Linked DNA regions of Homo sapiens. The protein of the gene in region 1 interacts with the protein of each later gene in a pairwise test. Each region holds a gene or a part of one and is shown on either strand. Other genes may lie near its edges.

Region 1 (4,500 bases):
TAAATGTAAGAGTATAATTATTCTTTCCCCAAGCCTCGTGTAAAATAGGCATAACACTGATTGGTTTAACTTAAAAATAAATTTAAAGTGGAGATTCTAGGCCTGAAGTAGGGGAAGGTGTGTGGGCTTAGGAGTCCTGATCTGAGTTTGAGTTCAGACCCCACCCCACTCACTAGCCACACAGTTTGGGACAAGTCTGTACCTCAGTTTCTTCACCTGTAGAATGAGGATAATACCTATTATTTGTGGGATGTAATGAGGATGAAATAATGCATGCAAAATGCCTACTGTGGTGCCTGGAACATAGTAGGTACACCAACAGTGGCACAGATCACGTAAACCAGGGGCTCCAGCTCTGTTCTGCTGTCGTGAGCAAGAGCTGGGGAGGAGGCAGTGGGCTTCCCTCTATATGCCAGGCCACTCAGCTGTTAAGCTGGTGGTGTCTGCTGCAGGCTCAGTCTGAGAGAAGGGGTGGCCAAGCCACAGGGGAGACTCACAGGGGAGACTCAAAGGTGAGACCAGAGTGAGCCTTAAGGACCTGCCTAATGGGGTGTGGGGGTGGCACTTCCAGGCCAACTGCATGAAATTTATTCTCCTCCTTGTCTGGGTGACTCAGGCAGGGGCTTGGACAGGGTCCCTCTGACGGAGAAGCCTAGGGTAGTCCTCTTCATCTAACTTCCTTCCCTGTAGGCTGAACATCCACAGAAGCATAGGATTCTCTTGACGTAAAAGCCCACTTGCTCACAGCTGTCCCCCTGTGCACCGGACATCAATGACCCTCTCAGACAATGACGCTACTCAAGTGGAAGCCATTTATTTAAAACTTTTATTAACGCTTGAAGAAAAATAATGCAATGTGACAATGTACAGGTCCTGTTGCCTAAATCCGTAGTAGAAACAGATATTATCACTTAGCAAGCTCACGTGGTGCCAATTCTGAGATCAGACGGGGTTGTTCCTCCTTAGGAAGTGGCCACTGGAAGCATTGTTTTTCCATGCTATTTCCGTGAAGCCTTTTGCTTGGTTCGAGTTTAAATTTCTCCCTTTGTGTGAGTATGACTATAGTTCTGGCCTGGTGTTTTCTATTTATTTAGTTTTAGATGTCAGCATTTTACTATACTTGGTCCTCTCACTTCAGAATAACAGGGCTATTTATTGATACAAAGGAGAGGTGTTCAGATCATCTTGTTAAGATGCAGAGCTCAAAATAAACACTAAATCTTTATTTGGAGATCCACATCCTTCCTCAAAGGAAGGCTCATGAGTAAATTTGTATGCAGTATAAAGCCCAAGTAGAGGGTGTATTTTTAATGACTACTTTGCTTACATTTTAGATTGTGCAAATGTCTCAATCAATGCTTGCAGGAATGTGGACCTTCCTCAGTTTTAAGCAGAAGACCCTGAGCAATAAATACTGTTGCATGCTTCCAATAACGTGAGGGATGGGATAGAAATGCTATCTACCCGACTTCTGAGGAGAAAACAAAGCAGTGGCATGAAAAATATACAACAGAGATCAGTAAATGGGTTCAAATGAACACAGTAAACCATTTTATGCCTTAGGGGGAAAACACAGAGATAATAAATACAAATGACAAATATTTACAATAGAAGCAACGAATGGGATCAGTAGGCGAACACATAAAACATTTACACGGAGGAAAATGGAAATGTGATGCCTTTCACACATCCAGTCCAGGAGCTGGCGGACAAATGAACAGCTGACTCAGCAACGCAGGAGAATGTTATTGCTTTAGCTTTTGAGTGATGTCAGTAAAACAGTCAACGTGCCTGCCGCGGTGGCTCACTGCAGGAGACAGCCACGGTTTACACTCGTTCCCATGGCAGAGCCTGACACACAGGTCCTCCTCCCCCCAAGGGCAGAGCTGGATTAAGTGCACCAGCTCTTCTGTTCTCTGCAGCCCCAGATCTTGCTGGGTGCCCAGGGAGCCCGGTGGCGGGGGCTGGAGGTGGGGTTTCCTCCCTTCCCCCAACCAATGATTCCCCTCCCCACCCAACCGCCGGCATGGATCATGAAAGACTGGGATTGGATTTGGGGCATAGAAATACTAGCTGTGTTTTGGTTGAAGGCATTCCCCAGGAACAAGTCATTTTAGAGCAGATACGCTTGGTTTCTTGGTGTCTGGCCTCAGGTTGCCTTGAGGAAGAGCTGATGAGTTGACGGATAAGGATGCATATGCTTTTTGACCCACTCACTAGAACAGAGATCAGTAAACTGTGTCCTGTGAGTGAAATTCAGCTGGGAGCCTGTTAAATAAATCTTCCTGGAAGGGAGCCAAGCCCTCTCGTTTGTGTGTTGTCTATGGCTGCTTTTGTGCTAGGACGGCAGAGTTGAGTAGTTTCGACAGAGACCTCACGGCTCGCCAAACTGAAAGTACTGGATTCAGTATCTGGCCCTTTGCAGACAATGTTTGCTGACCCCCTACTCCAGAAGAGCCCAGCCCAGAATACCCGGCCACTCCCTACAATACCAGCTCCTGCTTGAGAAAGGATAGGCTTTAATTTGATGGCCAATTAGGAAGAAAAGGCCTATTTAGGTGATGTTTTAAATAACCCAAGAAACCCACTGCTGAGACTTTTAATGAAAATCCTCACTCTCCTTTCCTCGTATTTTTAGTTCTGTCTCTTCTCTCTGCCTTTATTTGTCCCCTTGGACTCCTCTCCTTATTGCTAAATTTCCAATTAGGATCTGGAAAATCCTGTCCCTTAGAGATTTTCAGCAGTCTCCTTGATTTTATGTAAAAGGTCAGCATTTCCTGATGGGAATTACTAAGTAGTCTTCATTCTCTTCTTTCCTTTCCCATCCCCTCACATGGAGAAGCCAGGTTTCCAGCTGGGTCTCCTGGAATCGCCAGGACGCAGCTTTACCAATCTTGGCTGAGGGTCAAGGTGAGATAACGAAATCCTAAGGGAAATTTGTCAAATGTACTCCCCAGGTGTGTATTTTCCTCTGGGTATAAGGTTTCCCCCAAGTGGGCAGGAGTCCATGTCAGGCAGTCAGATGTATGGCTATGTCGCTGTTTGATAGCTTTTAAAATAGAACTTAAAAAAAAGAAAAATCAGCCTCAAAGGATGGGCTGGTTTTTTTTTTTTAAACCCCCTTTGAGCTGGTTTTAATGACCCAGTTGCTTTGTTTGAAAGCCATTTATTTAGATGACAGATATGTAGATATAACTGGATAAATAAAAAAAGTGAAATCGAGATTTGAAGCAGTGGTTAAAATATAAACTCATAGGGGCCACTCCCTTGGACAGTGTCCCCCCCAGCCCAGACAGTACAATGGCTCAGAAATTACACATAGAAATGACACTCCTCCCTCCACCCTCGCCAAGAGCTCTGAACCGCAAGGCCCCACACAAGAAACTGAATTTCAGTTTGGCACCAAGCACCCCCTCGGCCCCTGCCTCCTCTCCACCCTTCTCCTGCATTCTAAGCGATATTTATTTTTACATTCACTCCTGTCCTGGAATCCAGCCGCCCTGACTTCCGCGGAGACAGCACCAGAGGCTGCTGCACCAGAAGCTTCGGGGCGAGGCCCAGCACCCACTGTGTGGCCCAGCTCTGGGGGCCCTGCCTTGCCCTGCCCCTCCCTGGTTCACCTCCCCCACAACAGAGCGGCCGACACCCACTGACTCCACAGATGGAAAGAAGACAAAGGTACGAGGATAACGCGGGCGCGCTCCCTTGAGTACGTGTAAGTGCAGAATTCACCAGGCACCCCTGAGACCCCACGGCCCCAGGGGTCTCCATCTCACCTGTCCGTTCCGCGAACACACACCTCGATGAAGTCCACAGTCCCCACAGAATCCTGCGTGTGACATCCCCCCTCTCTAATGGTAAATGTTTTGGAATGTCCATAGATAAGAAAATGGACGGCGTGGAGGAAAGATTTCGTGGCCAGGCCTTTCATTTCACCTCCGGATATCAGAATACTCAGACTGTTCGTCTTCCCACTCGCTGCTTCCGGAAGGTCCCTGAGCCCCAAGGCCCCCGACTCTGCCTCGGGCATGGGCGTTTGGGTGGCTCTTGCTACCTCGCTCACCCTTGGCACCTCGGCCAGTCTCCCTACTGCTGGGCTCTGGGAGGTGATGTCCTGCTTCCCCGTGGTGGGCCCTGGAGAGCTTGGTTCTGTCCACCTGGGGCTGGCGCTCGGGGGGCGCCGTGGGAGGCTTCTGGATGGCCGAGGTGCAGAAGCTCAAGATGGAGCACAGGCTTCCCCAGTTCTGCTCACACTGAACCTGCACGCTGTGGGTGATGGCCTCCTTCACCTCCTCCCCACAGGTCAGCAGCAAGTTCACGAGGTCCACGTAGGGTCTAAAGATTGAAAGCAAAGAGAGAGAGAGAGAGAGAGAGAGAGAGAGAGAGGCTGGGAATGGAGCAAGTCCCGAATGGACCACAGAGGGCAGGGGCAATGCTGGGAAGGAGGCATGGCCAGTGCTTGTCTTGGGTTCGGTGGAAGATCTCTCTCAAATGACTTCA
Region 2 (3,808 bases), on another chromosome or scaffold:
TTGCTGTTCAGGGTCCTGCAGGCACCCTGATTAGCGTGTGTATTCCCACCCTTCTCCCCCTATCCCCTTCTGTCTGTTTCTTTACAGCCCTTTTGGGATCTGTAATGATCTGGTTTATGTTTATTTAACTGTTTATTCTCTGGCTTCAAGTTCAGCCCTTTGTCTCTGGGGCCTTGAACAGGGCTCGGTATTGGGCACGTGTCTGTTGAGTGCCTTTATGATGACAATTATAACAACAGTCGTAGCTGACAATTACTGCTCACTGGACCTGGGCGGACAGTGTGCCCAGTGCTTAGTGTGTATTATTTTGTTTTCAGTTCAGCCTGATGGTGTGAAATCGGGACTATTATAATTCCCATTTTCCAGATGTGGAAACTGAGGCCCAGAGAGATTAAGTAACTTGTACAAGACCACACAGCAGGCAAGGGGTAGGATTAGAAGTCAGCTATGCTTCATTAGCCGGGCGTGATGGCGGGCACCTGTAACCCCTGCTACTTGGGAGGCTGAGGCAGGAGAATCACTTGAACCCAGAAGGTGGAGGTTGCAGTGAGCCGAGATTGTGCCATTGCACTCCAGCCTGGGCGACAGCAGGACTCCATCTCAAATTAAAAAAAAAAAAAAAAAAAAAAAAAAAAGTCAGCTATGCTTGACTCCAGGAGAAAGGAGGGAGGGAGACTTTGGATAGAACAAGGCAGGGCAGTGTCTCTAACTGTGGAGTTGCGAGGCCACTGCTCCCATCTGCTGTCCTGGGAGGCCTGGACAGGGCCCTCCCCTCCCAGGGCCAGCCTCTTTCCTGGAACTCTGGGCGTTGAACATTCTAGGACTCTATGACCTGTGCTGGTAGGTCATGCGGGGGCCCTGGCCCCCAGGCCAGCAGCTGGGGCCTTTTTGAGGTGGGGGCTCCCCGGACTCAGGAGTTCCTCCTTGGCCGCGGCTGTAGCTGAGAGAAGGGACAGGAGGTAGGATGCCACCTCCTCCAGAAGGCAAGCCAGCCACCAGCTTCCCAGCCCGACAGAACTGAGGCCCAACGGGAGAGTGCAGCAATGTCTGGGGAGGGGTTCTGACATTTCAGGGATGGGGCATCCCTTCTCCTCTGAGCAGTCGGGCCTGGTTCTTGGGTGGCTATGCTTGAAGGCGGTTCGGGGGGTGCGGTGGGATTTTTGGGTGATGTAGGTTGAAGACTCCTATAAATGAGGGGACTGGGGGGGCAAACTGAGGTTGAAGGTTGTGAGAGCTTCATTTCTTTCCATGAGCAGCTGGAAACCTGGATTTTGAGGAAACCCCCTGGGATGTTTAAGATAGTTCAGGCCGGGCATGGTGGTTCATGCCTGTAATCCTAGCACTTTGAGAGGAAGAGGTGGGAGAATCCGTTGAGCCCAGGAGTTTGAGATCAGCCTGGGCAACATAGTGATACCCTGTCTCTATAAAAAAAAAAAAAAAAAAAAAAAAAAAAAAAAAAAAAAAAATTAGGCATGGAGGTCAAGGCTACAGTGAACTGTGATTATGCCACTGCCCTCCAGCCTGGGTGACAGTGAGACACTGTCTCAAAAAAATAAAAGTTATTTATTTTTTTTTGAGACGGAGTCTCACTCTGTCACCCAGGCTGGAGTGCTGTGGTGTGATCTCGGCTCATTGCAACCCACAGCTCCCTGGTTCAAGCAATTCTCCAGCTTTGGCCTCCCGAGTAGCTGGGATTACAGGCACCCACCACCACGCCCAGCTAATTTTGTATTTTTAGTAGAGACTGGTTTTCACCATGTTGGCCAGGCTGGTCTCCAACTCCTGACCTCAGGTGATCCACCTGCCTCTGCCTCTCAAAGTGCTGGGATTACAGGTGTGAGCCACCGCACCTGGCCCATGCTTCAAATCTAAATTTGAAAACCCCATGGGACCTGAGTCAAACCGATCCAGGGCTGCTGCTGTCCCTCCCGGCTGTGTGGTGTTGAGTGGCGTCCTGAGTTAGTTAGGCTTCTCCCTACTTCATCTCGTACCCCCATCACCAGCCCTGCGCAGGTGCCAAGTGATGCCCACCCAGCTGCCCCACTTTGCAGATTCGGAAACTGAGCCCAGAGATGGGAAAGGACTTACCCAAGGGCCTCTGACTGCTGGACTGTTTCTCTTTCCCCTGAACCTCGAGCTGAGGCCACGTTAGAGCCGACACCTTCATATTCAATGTTCAGTGATTATTGTGTACAGCGAGTGTCCTGCTCTTGAAAAATTGTCAAAAGCACAGCAGCAGCTAGGGAATTCCCGCCCTCCAGCTGGATTTACCGGTACATACTAGGGGTCACAGAAGGAATTTGATTTCATAACAGCGTGGTGACCCGGGCTGTGTGGAAATTCACTGGGCCTGATGGAGCTGGATGCAGCCTTGGAAATTCTCCCTTTCCCTTTGGGCTCTCGCAGCAGGCCCCCCAGTCCTGGGTGCAGGCTTGTGACAGCTGCTCAGGGATCCAAACGTGGCGCTTGAGCTCTCTGCGACGTGTTCCACAGTTCCCTGGAGGCGGACACTGCGTGAGGGTCAGTTTTTGCCCCTGCTTCCCTGTGGTGTCTGGCTCCCAGCAGCGTCAGGGAGGGTCCGTGGAGTGGCTGAGTTTGGATCTAGGTGGTTGGCATTAAAATCTCCCTGGCTTTGGGTTTTCTTTTTTGAGACAGAGTCTTGCTCTGTAGCCCAGGCTGGAGTGCAGTGGTGCGATCTCAGCTCACTGGAACCTCCGCCTCCCAGGTTCAAGCAATTCTCATGCCTCAGCCTTCAAGTAGATGGGATTACAGGTGCCTGCCACCATGCCCAGCTAATTTTTGTATTCGTATTAGAGACTGGGTTTCCCCATGTTGGCCAGGCTAGTCTCGAACTCCTGACATTAAGTGATCCGCCTGCCTCGGCCTCCCAGAGTGCTGGGATTGCAGGTGTGAGCCACTGCGCCCGGCCCCTGGCTTTGGGTTTTCTGCTCACCTTCCTCCTTCCCTCCCACAAATACTATGTGTCCCAAATGTGCCGGGATCCATGCCTTGTGCTGGGGACACAGAGGGGACCGATGCCATCCTGGTCATGGGGGAGGATGTGGCATTTTCATGAAGAGCTATGATCGAGGGGGCCCCACGGTTGCTTCAGGAGCCCAGAGTAGGCATCTGACCCTGCCAGGCGTGCTCCCAGACAAGGTGACAATGGTGCTGAGGTGCCCGAGAGGAATGAGCCTCAGATACTGGACTGTCAGACGTGGACATGGGGGTAAGCACAGGGTCCCTACCTTGCAAGGCACGAGCCCCTGACAGCCTCTTCTCTTTCCAGGTCAGCCATGTCATCTGAGCCTCCCCCACCACCACAGCCCCCCACCCATCAAGCTTCAGTCGGGCTGCTGGACACCCCTCGGAGCCGTGAGCGCTCACCATCCCCTCTGCGGGGCAACGTGGTCCCAAGCCCACTGCCCACTCGCCGGACGAGGACCTTCTCGGCGTGAGTCTGGAGCAGGCTGGGGACGCGTTCTCAGATGGATCTCTTGCCTGAGGCCAGAGATTCACTGTGTCTCTGGCCATTTTTGGGCCTATGTCCCGGACTGCCAAATAGGCAGACCTGGGGCTGGGCCGTGGGCTGAGGGTGAGAAACTAGGAAGGCGCCTTGTAAATTCAGGGTACTGCCCAGCCCAGAAGAACCTGTTACCAGCTGGGAGTGGCAATGGGTGGGCAGTTGCTGGGGTCAGAATCGCTGGGCTTTAACCACACATGAGAGTCTGGTTCCCTGTGAGACTGTGAATTCTGCAGCTGCAAAATGGGCACAGCACCAGGGCTGCAAAGGACCCACATAATGCCT

What was found.
Region 2: the proteins of STC2 (region 1) and CARHSP1 interact in a two-hybrid assay, tested with the Homo sapiens proteins (one large-scale study listed by BioGRID and IntAct).

Annotation. Positions count from the first base shown.
Region 1 is NC_000005.10:173,313,915-173,318,414, forward strand, and holds the end of STC2 (stanniocalcin-2 precursor), read right to left. Parts: intron 4,336-4,500; coding exon 3,933-4,335; 3' UTR 809-3,932; downstream 1-808. UniProt on the Homo sapiens protein: Has an anti-hypocalcemic action on calcium and phosphate homeostasis.
Region 2 is NC_000016.10:8,858,817-8,862,624, reverse strand, and holds part of CARHSP1 (calcium-regulated heat-stable protein 1), read left to right. Parts: intron 1-890; exon of another isoform or gene 891-983; intron 984-2,051; exon of another isoform or gene 2,052-2,520; intron 2,521-3,289; 5' UTR 3,290-3,296; coding exon 3,297-3,454; intron 3,455-3,808. UniProt on the Homo sapiens protein: Binds mRNA and regulates the stability of target mRNA. Binds single-stranded DNA (in vitro).